Linked DNA regions of Homo sapiens. The protein of the gene in region 2 interacts with the protein of the main gene of each other region in a pairwise test. Each region holds a gene or a part of one and is shown on either strand. Other genes may lie near its edges.

Evidence for each region. The genes of interacting proteins can lie anywhere in the genome.
Region 1: the proteins of HID1 (region 2) and CSDE1 interact in binary tests that used the Homo sapiens proteins (3 or more experiments, as listed by UniProt).

What each region holds. Positions count from the first base shown.
Region 1 is NC_000001.11:114,747,985-114,755,011, reverse strand, and holds part of CSDE1 (cold shock domain-containing protein E1), read left to right. Parts: intron 1-4,804; 5' UTR 4,805-5,191; intron 5,192-7,027. UniProt on the Homo sapiens protein: RNA-binding protein involved in translationally coupled mRNA turnover.
Region 2 is NC_000017.11:74,962,750-74,969,776, forward strand, and holds part of HID1 (protein HID1), read right to left. Parts: intron 1,884-7,027; coding exon 1,734-1,883; intron 1,162-1,733; coding exon 991-1,161; intron 333-990; coding exon 216-332; intron 1-215. UniProt on the Homo sapiens protein: May play an important role in the development of cancers in a broad range of tissues.

The DNA of each region.
Region 1 (7,027 bases), on a different chromosome or scaffold from region 2:
CTGTAATATGGTTACTAGAATTATAATTACACTGTATTTCTGTTGGAAACTGCTGGTCTGTGGTGTTTTCTGATGTGTCTAGAATGTTTCTTCAGCATCTTCCCACACTGCCATTTGTCCTGCTTAAAACTATTAGGTTTCTGGGTGTATATATAAGCAGTTAAGTGATAGATAATTTTAAATATCTCAGTAGCTGTTTAGATAATTAATCCAGCACAGTTGTTACTACACAGATACAAAAAGATAGTTGTGTCAGTTTGATTTTTTATTTTTACTCAACAGATGACTTAGGTTGGTTAATTATCTAGAGTTTATCGTTTACCTTAGATCCTAAAGTAAAAATGAATTAAGACCTATTAAGCACTTCAGTTATAAAATGTGGTGCTCAATGAAATGTCAGGCAATAGAGAAACTTTTCAGTCCTATGCTACCTATTTGGGTCTTTGTTTTTTCCTGCCTAAAAGAAGATACTGCCTAAAGGAAGTGGGTTAGGTGAGCAGACTTTTGTAGACTGGCTTAGCCTTTCATTAACTTTTCCCGAAGTGAGTGCTGCACATACTTTCAAAATAATAAACTAGGTAGTGTGATACATTTTAGATGGATTACTTACCACATAAATGTGTTAGTTTAACCTCTTCATTTAGTGCCGACTATGTCATGGCTTATGCTAGGCCTTTGAGGTAAAACAGCCGAGGAAGACATGAAATAAAACAGGTGGTGGCCAGGTGCAGTGGCTCACGCCTGTAATCCCAGCACTTTGGGGGGCTGAGGCAGGTGGGTCACTTGAGGTCAGGAGTTCGAGACCAGCCTGACCAACATGGTGAAACCCCATCTGTGCTAAAAATACAAAAATTAGCCAGCCAGGCCTGGTGGTACACGCCTGTAGTCCCAGCTACTGGGGAGGCTGAGGCAGGAGAATCGCTTGAACCCGGGAGGTGGAGATTGCAGTGATTAAGTAATAATACTATTTCCATGCTGAGCAAAGGGAAAAGGAGTTGATTACTTAGCACACAGTATGATTCTCAGATACACATTTAAATTGTTCCCTAGTGTTTTTATTGGTACCCTATGGTGGGTTTGTGGGGGCGATTGTTTTGAGTCAGCGTCTTACTCTGTCGCCCAGGCAAGAGTGCAGTGGCACAGTCATAGCTCACTGCAGCCTCAAACTCCTGGATTCAAGTGATCCTCCTGCCTCAGCTTCCCGAGTAGCTGGGACTACAGGTGCATGCCACCACACCCAGTGAATTTATTTTTTATTTCTAAAATTTTTTGTAGAGACAGCATCTCACCATGTTGCCCAGGCTGGTCTCAGACAATCCTCCCACCTTGGCCTGCCACAGTGCTGGGGATTACAAGCGAGAGCCACCACCCCAGCCCAATACCCAGTGTTTCATGCAACTTAAGTTTCAAGCTTTTAGGGGGATGGAGGAGATGCACTTGTGTTCCTAGGGTTAAGGCAAAAGAGGTGGTTAGTAGCACCAATTAATGTTAATCCGGGCATGAGTGGATAGCTATTTATATTAAACTGCCTGACCAATACCTTTAAGTTCTTCAGTAAGTGTTAATTTAATTGAAAAACATTTAGTTAACTATAGAAGCTGTGAAGATGTTAATTCGGCCAGTAAATTATTCATGACTGTTGGTGGGTTCGTTTGAGCTTTAATAGCTCCTAATAGACCTCATTAGTGCCTAAGAATGGCCCTGCAGTACTCCAGAGTTTCAGTTCCAGAAATCTCTTTTTTTGTGTTACTGAATCTTGGACTTGACAGTTCTTAATGTGATACGACAACCTGGAATGGGTTAATCCAGTTCAAGTGTTTCAAGATAACTTGTTTTCTCCATGTTGAGTTCTTTGGGTTCATTAATACACCTAAAGCATTAAGATAAAACCAATATACACAGTCTGTATTTTTTAAAGAAGAGATTATTTCTTGATTGGATAATTAAAACTATATAATTAAAGGTGGTATAACTGTTTACACTTGAATTGTGGCATAACTGTTTACACTTGAATTGTGGCGTCCTTTTGCTTATTAAGGATTAACTACCTTTTTCCTTTGGTTGTATATGGCAGCACTGGATTAGGTGCGAAAGGAGGCTGTGATAAAGAAATTTGAGTTTACCTCTCAGAAATTTGAAATAGAATTGGAGGAACAAGATACATAAAAACATGAAGTAAACAAAGTACAGAAATTGCTTGGTATCACTTGCTGCAAATTGCTTGGTGCAGGCAGTGGATGTTACTGCCCCATTCATTAGTAGGAATTAATGAATGAGTCTGCTGGAATGGTCAAGAAAGGCTTTTTTGTCACCTTGAAGATCACAACATAGTATTTTTTTGTGGGAAGACCCATATAAGCAAAGGTGGCTAGAATTCAGGAATCTCCCAAGAGTTGTGTTTAAGGATTAGGCGAGGTAATGGACTTCTGGTAGAACTGGAACACAGTAGAGAGTAAGGATGGAAGGTAGAATAGAGACACCTGGAATAGTAGTTCTTAATCCTGGCTGGAAGTCAGAAACACTTGGAGCAGGGGTTGGGGGGAGATAACAAGGCCTGGCACCTAACCTAGTGTAGTTAAATTTAGAATCTTTGTACGGGACTCAGGCTTTGATTTTGTTGGTTTTTGTTTGTTTGTTTGTTTAAGGTTGCTGGGGGTGGGTGGATAGCCAGGATTAAAAACTTCCCATCTAGAATGGTGGAAAAATAACTGAAGATGTTTGACAGGGGAGATGAGAAATGAAATTGGAGAGTTTTTGTTTTGTTTTGTTTTTTGAGACAAGGTTCTGATCTGTCTCCCAGGCTGTAGTGCTGTGTCACTATCTTGTTCTCTGCAGCCTTGACTTCCCAGTCCTAAGTAGCTGAGGCTCCAGGCGTATACCACCATGCCTGGCTAATTTTTTGTATTTTTAGTAGAGATGGGGTTTCTCCACGTTGCCCAGGCTGGTCTGGAGCTCCTGGGCTCAAGCAGACCTCCTGCCAAGGCCTCCCAAAGTGCTGGGATTACAGGCGTGAGCCAACTCACCTGGCCAAAATTCAAGTTTTTGATAGTCTGGTGGTGGTATGTGACAGAAAATGGAAAGTGTGCACACTGGAAGTTGGCGGATATATTAGACACCTGAGCTAAAATATGTCACTTAGTAGGATAAGAGATGAATACAAAAGATATAGCGAGGGAAATACTAACACAACTTGCAACATTGGGTATGGTGATGGAGAGGGGAAGAATCAAGATAGTTAAAGAAGTGGCCCTACCTCAAACCAGTTGTATTACTCTGAGTGGAGGCTGGGCATAGGTTTGTTTTTGTTTTTTTTTTTTTAAAGCTTCCCAAGTATTTGAGCACCATTACCCTGAGACATATATCTAGTCTGGGTAATAGGAGAATGATCTAAATAAAGTTGAAAGATCAGACAAGTGTATGTAACATTTGATATTTGAAGGAACATGGGATGTTAGAGAATAGAAAATGGCCAGATCAGCTGTTATTGAGTTTTTATTTTACATGTGAGGAAAGTGAAACTTAGAGAGATTAAATAACTTGTTCATGGTATTTACTAGTACCAGTGATTGCGATTAGGCTCTTCTGGTCTGAGCTATTTAATCAGCTCTGACCTCTCACCTGATAATCATTCTTCTGATGTTTTCAAATATCCATTTCTCAGCACGTACACCTTTTTCTTATCTCTGTAGAAATAATTTTCGTTAACACCATTTTGTAACTTTGGAGTCAGTGCAAAATTGTTGTTTATTTTATAGCTAATATAAAGCAGAAATGTGATTTTTACTGATAAATAAATTTTATTTCTCTTCTATAGACATTTCTCATCTATTTACTGCAGCAGTGCAAATGAGATTTCTGTTTGCTTACTAAGTCATCTCCTTTAGGATTTCAAGACTTAATACCACTTTCATCAAAAACTAAGGCACTGTTTCCTGTTACATCACGTTGAAATGCTTCATAATCGGGCTCCGCTACACCTGTCACACTACATATCCTATTTCACTTCAGCCCAGCTCTCTGTTCTAGCCAGGCTAGCCTGTTGATTTTCCTCTGAAACAACAAGCCACACATGTTGCCACAGGCATTCATGCAGAAGACTTCACTTGATGCTGGGCTTAGAAAATCATAGAATGCATGGTCGCTGCTCTGAAGAAAGAATTTAGTGGCATATTCTCGCTTGACTTATGTGCTGTTTCATGCCTAGAATACTCAGCTATTTTCTTTCTCCTAGAATTCTGCCTGATTTTCCAGGTTCACTTCAAATTCCACTTATTTAAAAGCCTTGGTTGCTTTGATGGACATGCAGTTGTGGATAAACAATAAATAATATTTCTAGATAGTCTGTGACATAATAGATACCTAGATACTAATTGAGCAAAATAATTTTTGGCATTTTTGTCCTATACTCTGTTTTTTTTTTCCATGTTTACATCTTGTCTTTTCAGCAAGATTGTCTATGCTCTCATGGCAGGGACTTCTTTTATGTTTTCCACAGAGCTAGATCCTTATAAAATACTTGCACTAAATTAAACATTATGCCATGTAACTGAGCTTATTTGGGGGAAGAGGTCAATAAAGACTATGGAATAATTTGAGGTCTTGGGTATGAGATACCAAAGGAGGTAGTTGCTAGTACTTGAGAGATTGCTCCAAATAACATCAGATGAGCATGCTTCCAAGTTTCCTGCATTACTTGCATGACCCATGATTCTAAGTTAATGAAATGAGTTTGTCCCTCTTCTCACCCACTGTCCCTGATTATTTTATGTATGTTATACTTAATGTCTTCATTTTTTACCTTTAGTATGAAGTGTAACAGAACAGACTTTACCACCTGAAACTGCTGCTTCAAGTTCAGATCAGGCAAGGAACAAACCTCGTAACAACTAACAAGACCAAAGAAGAGTACACTTAAGTTGAAGACACAACACTTGATCTGAAACAAGAAGTTTGTGCCTACTCAACAGCTTTGAAAGAGCACTTCCCAACGCTGCTAGTAGTCTTTGTTTTCTTCAGTGCTGTACTGTGAGATTGCCCGGTACAGCAGCAGTTGTATTCTTTATTAGCTTGGTAGATCATTTTCTCTCGCTCTTTTTTTTAATACTAGCAACTTTCATCCTTTGAAACGTGTGCTGAAAAAGAAGAATCAGCAAATACTACTGAAAGTGCAATATTTGAGTATCACTGCGAGGTAGGTTTGTAATTTCCTATTAAGAATCAGTTCCATAATTCTAGATTTCCTGATTATTTGGTCAAATATAAAATCTTTATTTGTTCTTTTCTAAAGGTATTCAGAAGACAGTTTTTCTATTCTCAACTAGTATGAAATATCAACACTATCTCTTGTTAGATAAGGACAGTATTTATGGTCAAACATTTTTCATACCAGATTATATTAATACATGCTGATCTCTCGACTTGCTGGTCTCTTAGAGAAGCTCCGTCTGTACTATTTAGAAGTTAGGATTTCAAATAAGAATGTGCATTGCAGTCTTTCTATGAGGGTCTGTGAAACTTTGGTGATATTTGCTACTGACGTCTGTTTCTTTCTCTCTACTGTCTTCAATGTTAGCTTCTTGAGGAAAGAACCTTACTTTATATCCATGCCTACATTTGCAGTGCATATTTGTGAACGGTATACAGTGCACATTTGTAAATGGTTGACATGCCTACTGTATTGTTAGGCATTGCTAGTGCTGAAATATAACGAATGAATAAGATACTAATGGACTTAATGATTTAGAACAATTTGTTACACAATATCACAATATAGGCTAAAAGATACTAATAAAATATTAAGAATATAACTGAAGCTGTTCCCTTGGAGGTAAGGAGGAGGGTAAAGAAAGCCTACAGAAAAGGGATATTTGAAGGTGAGTAGTACCTTGTTAAGAGGTAGAAGAGACATTGGTAGAGGTATAGAGGTAACAGAATTAGCAGATTCAGGGCTACGTGAAAGCACATGGTATATATTAAGTTGTTCATTATGAACAGAGTAGAGAATATAATTTTGCGGGAGAGTTATGAAAGGGAAGTTTGCTGGAGGCTTGGCCCAATGCATTTGTCTTTATTCCGTAGGAGAGCCATCAGATGTCTATAAGCAAGGGCTTAAGGGTTTTTCCCCCAAAAGTAAGATAGCTTTATTGCTTCACATTTTAAAGTAATATTCAGAAGTGTACCTTTAAAAGACAAATGGTGACACTTTTGAGGGAAAGGCTGAGGATGGGAAGACCTGTCAAAAGCAGTGGATCAAGTATAAGGAAGATAAAAGCTAAGGTGTAGGTAGAGAAAAAGGTAGGTGCTAGGTGTTCTGATGATTTAGAAGTGAGGACTTGGGGACCAATTGAATCTGAAGATAAATGTGGAGAGAATGGCTTTATCAAATCCAGTTGTGCAAACTAGAAACCTTCATTGTTCATAGGAATAGGGAAGTTAGAGTAGTAACTTACTGATATTAAAATATGTTATGGAAATCTATTGTGTTCATTAGATAGCAATCTGAAGTTGAAGGAAATACACTAGTATGGAATATTGAACAGTGGTTAACTTTGAGGGTAGGCTTATGAAGAGCAATTTTCCTTTTTAATCTTTAGTTTCCAGATTTTCTAAAGTTAGACATAAAGGAATTCAGAAAGGAGTCATCAGTGTATAGGTAATAAAAGGAAGAAGCACCAATGAAGAGAGCAAAGACATAGAAGTCAGGAAAAAGCACCAACGATAATTTCAGGAAGTCAATGGTAAACATTTTTTTAGATGCTACAGAGGTCAAATAAAATGAAGAATGAAAATAAGTCATTCAGTTACAAAAGCTTCACTGCTATTTCAAGAAGCGCTTAGGACTTTATTTCCAATTTATTGAAGGATTATGTAATAGTGTCAGTGACCTTGCTGTGCACTAGAATTATTCCTTAACAACTAAAAACTATAGTAAAATTATCTATGTCTCATAAACAGACACTGTTATTTAATTTTAAGGTAATTGTAGCATTTAGTTTTTCTATTTGTTTCTTCTTACCTTAGCTGATTT
Region 2 (7,027 bases):
GCCCAGCCATCCGAACGCAGCGGGCAGGGCCAGCCCCAGCTGGCTTCCCTCAGCTGTACCAGCTGCCACCCAGGCCTACATGTGCCAGGCAGCTCAGCTCTCCTGGAGCCCCCCGGCCCCCAGTGCAATCCGCCCAAGGGAACTTCAACTGGCCCGGCCCCAACCCAGGACCAGAGCCTACTCCGCCTGGGGGTGGGGGGCTGGGGGACACTCACCACAGTGCTCCTCCGGTGGCTCTGAACCGTGAAGTCCGGGCAGAAGAGCAGGTCAGCAATGGCCAGGAGCAGGGACTCGGCCAGGGGCCTGGCATGCTCATCATCCTCTTCTCCCTGCTGGGGACACAGCACCCACAGGCTGCCTCAGTGATAGCTGGCCAGGAAGAGGTGGCCCAGGGCTTGGGGGTGGTGGAGGACAGGGGCTGAGCCCAGGCGGGCACCCATGGGCAGAGGAATGAAGGGACAGGAAGTGGACTCCTGGTTGCCCCAAACCTCCCAAGGCAGAAGTGGGGCACAGCAGGGAGCCGGGCCGGGAACAGCGAGGGAACCTCCCCTACTGACTGGAGGGGGCCGGGCGGTGACCCCAACATCAAGAGTCTCAGCCCTGCTAGGAATCACTGTGTTGCATCCCTCAGCACCTCACCTGGACATAAACCCAGGGCAGGTGGTGTGGGGGAGAGAGGACAGTGTGGTCCCTCTCCGGCCCTCAGAGGGCCCAGCTCCTCTGCCTCCACCTCTGCCCAGTGACCCCTGGCTCTCAGCTTCTCTCCATACCCTACTTCCTCCAGACTGTGGGCACAGAAACCCCCATGGGAGGGGAACTGAGGGCCCAAGGAGGTGGCATTGAACACCATCCCTCAGCAGCACCCACTGGCCCCACCCCTGTACTTCCCAAATCCCAGAAGAGGCTTGGAGGAGCATGGCCGGCCCTAAAGGGCGCTCTCCCTGTGACGCCAACTCTGCCTCCCACCCAGCCCTGGCCAGGCCCACAGACCCCTCCTCGCCCTGCCCCGGGCACTGTGGACCAGAAGAAGCCCCTCCAGTCGGGGTCCTCAAAGATGTAGGGCAGCACGCGGGTGAGCAGCCGGCTGCAGTTCAGGACGATCTGCTTCTCCTTCTCCGAGTGGCAGCCACTCTCAGCTCCCTGCACCAGCTTCTCAACGGCCTGTGGGGGCAGGCAGGAGCAGAGGGCAGGCTGGAAGGTGGGGAAAGGACCCTGGCACTTGGGGTCAGGGTGGGCACCCAGGCTGCAGAGGAGGGTCAGGGGGGGCACCCAGGCTGCAGAGGAGAGACAGTGGGGCCACAGGCAGAGGAGCCACCTGGAGTTGGGGTCGGCCAGCCTTGGGGGACTGGGACACAGGCCAGAGCAGCTTGGAGCATCAGGACAGCCAGGGCCCAGCTAGCCACTGGATGGCTGAGGCCTTGCTAAGTGAGTCTCCCAGCCTCAGTTTCCCTATCTGTAAACTGGCGACCCTGGCAGTACCCACCCCACAGAGGGAGCTAAATGAACTGATCTGTGGAAGGTGCTCAGTCAGATGTGGCCTGGAGGACTCCCCCATAAATGACGGCTGCCGTGGTCCCAACGCCCAGCAAAGAGAACCACAGAGAAGTGGAAGAGCTGAGTGAGGCCACAGGGCTGCCTGCCCCTGTGGGGCGGGAGGCCCTGGATGCGCCTGCCTTCTCCTGCTGTGGGCTGGGAGGGTGGAAGAGTAGCAGGAGGGACTGGGCAGCCCTCACCTTGTAGCACAGGGTGGCCAAGTTGGAGGGTGACTCTTCCCGCACGGCCCGGATCTCTGCTGCCGGCACCAGTGCAAACACATCCTGCACCGAGGTGGCTGTGTCTGCCCAGAACTGGTCCCAAAAGGCATCATCGGTGGCTTCCACGGGCTGTGGGGGGACCAAGGGTCCAGAGTTACACAACTCCTGGCCAGAGGGCCTACACTTTGCCCAACTTGTGGCCAGGAGAGACCCTGAGAGGGAAGCCAGAGTCCCCCTACCTGCTGGGGTCCCAGAGCCATCCCACATGGGTGGGGGACATACTTCAGCCACCACAACCCCTGGACAGCACAGTCAGGCTGGAGACACCAGGCATGCATGGTCAGGGGTCAGCTAGGCACAGAGTCAGCCAAAGCCCAACGCCACCCCTGAGGAGGTGTGTGACCCTGGTTAAGTCACCATCCTCCCCTGGCAAAGCAGGCTGACCTCCCCACCTGGGCACAGCCCCAGGCCACACCATTAGGTCAAATGCTCAGGGATCCAGGTCAAGACCATGCCCTCTCTCCATGGGAAGAAGACAAAGGTGACTTGTACTCCGTTTCCAGTCACCCAGGATGCCCGCCACAGGCCTCCGGCTCTGCCCTCTCACAGCACACCCAAAACAGCTGCCACATCTGGTGAATTCACCTCTGTGGCTCTCTGACCCCAACACGCCCCTCTCAGCGCCCACCTCCAGCGCTGCAGCTCAGGCTGCCCTTGCCAGGGCTGCCAACTTCAAATCCACCTCTTTCAACCCTGCCTCTATGCTGCTGCCAACGCATGCACCGAGGTGGCATCCTGCATGCACCACGGCACCGCTGCCACAGGCACTGCTTCCTCACCCAGAGCCCTTCAGGGGCTCCCCACTGCCTGCTGGGACAAGTCCAAACCTCAGCCCAGCACTCAGCCAAGATCTCACAGAAACATGCCTTACACACGTGCACACAGACACACATGCGTACACACGTGTCATACACACATACACCTGCATTTACTACTCCAGGACTCCACCCTGCCATCTCTTCTCTTGACCTTCACCCAAGCTGTTCTCTCTTCCCCCTTCCCCTTTTCCCCACAACAATGCATTCCAAAATCCATTCCCACGGAGGCAACAGGCCTTAAAAACACACATGCCCAGCCAGGCACAGTGGCTCATGCCTGTAATCCCAGCACTTTGGGAGGCTGAGGTGGGTGGATCACCTGATCAGGAGTTCGAGACCAGCCTGGCCAACATGGTGAAACTCTGTCTCTACTAAAAATACAAAAATTAGCCAGGCGTGGTGGCAGGCGCCTGTAATCCCAGCTACTCGGGAAGCTGAGGCTGGAGAATCACTTGAACCCAGGAGGCAGAGGTTGCAGTGAGCCAAGATCATGCCACTGCACTCCAGCCTGGGCAACAAGAGCAAAACCCCATCTCAAAAAAAAAAAAGTACACAAGATATAAAACTTCGTCTAGGATGCTCACAATTCATGTTAAATTATACATGAATAAAAGACTAGAAGAGGCTGGGTGAGGTGGCTCACGCCTGTAATCCCAACACTTTGGGAGACTGAGGCGGGTGGATCACAAGGTCAGGAGTTCAAGACCAGCCTGGCCAAGATGGTGAAACCCCGTCTCTACTAAAAACACTAAAATTAGCTGGGCATGGTGACGGGTGCCTGTAATCCCAGCTACTCAGGAGGCTGAGGCAGAGAATTGCTTGAACCCAGGAGGCAGAGGTCGCAGTGAGCCGAGATCGCGCCACTGCATTCCAGCCTGGGTGACAGAGCAAGACTCTGTCTCAAAAAAAAAAAAAAAAAAAAAAAGACTAGAAGAAAATGAACCAGAATGTTAGTAGCAACTCTCTCTCTGGGTGGTTTTATATTTTTCTTTATGTTTTTCTGTAAGAGCACATGTTACTATTTTTTTCCTTTTGAATGTTCATCTGTTAAGGGACCAGAGTGTCCAAGGCACGCGCACCTCCTCGGGCCCATCCCTTTATGGCTCCTTCTGAGTGTCACTTCCTGCAAGACACCTTCCTGCTTTCTCCAACACAGCTTTTTTCCTTCTCTGAAATCCTACAGCCAATAAAACCTGAGGTCCCTGCTACCACCACAAGCCTGCACTTCATACATGTTACTCTTATCATCAGAAAAAAATATATATCTTATTTAAAAATAATTCTGGGGCCGGGCGTGGTGGCTCATGTCTGTAATCCCAGCACTTTGGGAGGCCAAGGTGGGAGAATTGCTTGAGCCCAGGAGTTCAAGACCAGCCTGGGCAACATGGCTTTTGTAGAGACCCTATCTCTACAAAAAATAAAAACAAATTCACCAGGTGGGCCTGCCCAACCTCTAAGGAGGCTAAGGTGGGAGGATCCCATAAGCCCAGAAGGTCAAGGCTGCAGTAAGCTGTGATGGCACCACTGCACTCAAGCCTGGGCAACAGAGCAAGACTCTGTCTCAAAAAAGTAATAATGGCCAGGTGAGGTGGCTCACACCTGTAATCCCAGCAGTTAGGGAGGCCAAGGCAGATGGATCACAAGGTCAGGAGTTCGAGACCACCCTGGCCAATGTGGTGAAACCCCGTCTCTACTAAAAATACAAAAATTAGCTGGGTGTGGTGGTGCATGCCTGTAGTCCCAGCTACTCAGGAGGCTGAGGCAGAAATCGCTTGAACTCGGGAGTTGAAGGTTGCAGTGAGCCAAGATCGTGCCACTACACTCCAGCCTGGGTGACAGAGTGAGACTCCATTTCAAAAATAATAATAATAATAATAGGCCAGGCGCGGTGGCTCACGCCTGTAATTCCAGCACTTTGGGAGGCTGAGGTGGGTGGCTCACGAGGTCAGGAGTTTGAGACCAGCCTGGCCAATATGGTGAAACCCCTCTTTACTAAAAATACAAAAATTAGCCAGGCATGGTGGCACATGCCTGTAATCCCAGCTACTGGGGGAGGCTGAGGCAGGAGAATCACTTGAACCCAGGAGGCGGAGGTTGCAGTGAGCCAAGATCGCACCACTGCACTCCAGCCTGGGCGACAGAGTGAGACTCCGTCTCAAAAAAATAAAAAATATAATAATAATAATGGCTGGGCACAGTGGCTCACACCTGTGATCCCAACACTTTGGGAGGCTGAGGCAGATGGATTGCTTGAGCCCAGGAGTTTGAGACCAGCCTGAACAACATGACGAAATACCATCTCTACAAAAAAAATCAAAAAAATTAGCTGGGCATGGTGGCACACACCTGTCATCTCAGCTACTTGGGAGGCTGAGGTGGGAGGACTGCCTAAGCCCAGGAAGCTGCAGTGAACCAGGATCGTACCATGGCACTTCAGCCTCGGTGACAGAGTGGTTCACACCTGTAATCCCAGAGCTTTGGGAGGCTGAAGCAGGAGGATCACTTGAGCCCAGAAGTTGAAGACCAGCCTGGGTAACATAGTGAGACTATCTCTACAAAAAAAAAAAGAAAAAATTAGCCACGTGTAGTGGCACGCACCTGTAGTCCCAGCCACTCAGGAGGCTGAGGCAGGAAGATCACTTGAGCCCAGGAGTTCAAGGCTGCAGTGAGCTGTGATTGTGCCACTGTACTCCAGCGTGCATGACTGAGTGAGACCCTGTCTCTAAATATTTAATAATAATAATTCTGGTCTCTGAAGCTACTTCTTCTAAGAAGCCTCCCAGAGCCCCAGGCTTGCTTGCTCCCACCTGGGAACCTCCGGCCCCACCCCACCCCCACCCTGCGTTGTTCCTGCCTCCACAGTCTGGGTGCACGTGCCTTGAAGCCCCATCAGTCCCTGACCTTGCCAGTAAGGCATATGGCAGATATTCAGCCAATATTTGTTCCACTGAAGCTGCGCTCAGTCCTGGGGACCCCTTCAGCCTGGCCACAGAGCAGGGCTGAGCACCCGTGGAACTCTCCAAACTCAGAGTTGGGGTCGCATGCCTCACCAAGGTCCAGGCATACCCCAGCCCACTCCCAGAGCAAACACCCCCACCCCACCCCAGGGAGCTGCAGGGTAACATGTGGCCATGACTCTCAGTCCCAGAACTGGTAGAGCGAGTTCTTCACTGGGGGAGAGGAACAAAGGCTAAAGGAGGGCCCTGGGGCTGGGGTTTGCTGGCCCTTGGGCCCTCAGCCAGGACAGCCCTCTGGCACTCCCTGGAGCGCAGGGACATGGCACCCCAGTCTGGGTGGCCTGGAGCCAGGATGGGGTAAGGAAGGACATCCCAGGAAACCCACAGAGCCATCTGGGAGTGCCTCTGGGAAGCCGCCATCCCTGACACTTTTCCCACCTCCCAGGTAGCTACTACCCCCTTCAAAGGGCAGAAACTAAGCACAAGCAGGCATGACCTCTGACCTAGTTCATCAGGCAGTGTCACCGGGGGACTAAATCCAAAATGAAGAAAGAGACTTACTAGCCCATTCTGGAAGCAGAGGAGAGATCCCAGCCATGACAGATCTCAGCCTTGAACTTTAGGAACAGGACTTTGCCTCCCTGTTTCCTCAGCTTGGGCCTCCTCTCCTGGTCCCACTGTGGCTTGGACATTCGGATTTGGTGACCACCTGCCCAGGCCAAGCTGATGCTACAGGCATTAGTCAGGGTCACTGAGGCCCCTTAGGCTTCTAATGGGAGAAACGTGGCTCAGCGCCTGCCTCAATGACCCCAGTTGGCCTCCACCCAGCCCGCCCAAGGAAGCTTCTAATATCTGATCTTTTTTTTTCTTTTTTGAGACCGAGTCTTGCTCTGTGGCCCAGGCTGGAGTGCAGTGGTGCAATCTCGGCTTACTGCAAGCTGTGCCTCCCGGGTTCACGCCATTCTCCTGCCTCAGCCCCCGGGATTACAGGCGCCTGCCACGACGCCCGGCTAATTTTTTTGTATTTTTAGTAGAGATGGGGTTTCACCATGTTAGCCGGGACGGTCTCGATCTCCTGACCTCGTGATCCACCCGCCTCAGCCTCCCAAAGTGCTGGGATTACAGGCATGAGCCACCGCACCTAGCCAATATCTGATCTTTGAAGGAAGTGTTTTTGCTGGAGGTAGGCAGGCCCCTGCTGCTAGGGCCACAGAAACTGAGCTACCCTGGTAAAAATCCAGGTATTCTTCTCCCCTTATTCTTTTTCTTTTGTTTGTTTTTGAGTCAGGGTCTTGCTCCGTTGCCCAGACTGGAGTGCAGTGGCACAATCATAGCTCACCGTAACCTTGAACTCCTGGGCTCAAGTGATCTTCCTGCCTCAGCCTCCTGAGTGGCTGGGACTACAGGCGCACCCCACCCAGCCCAGCTAATTTTTTTT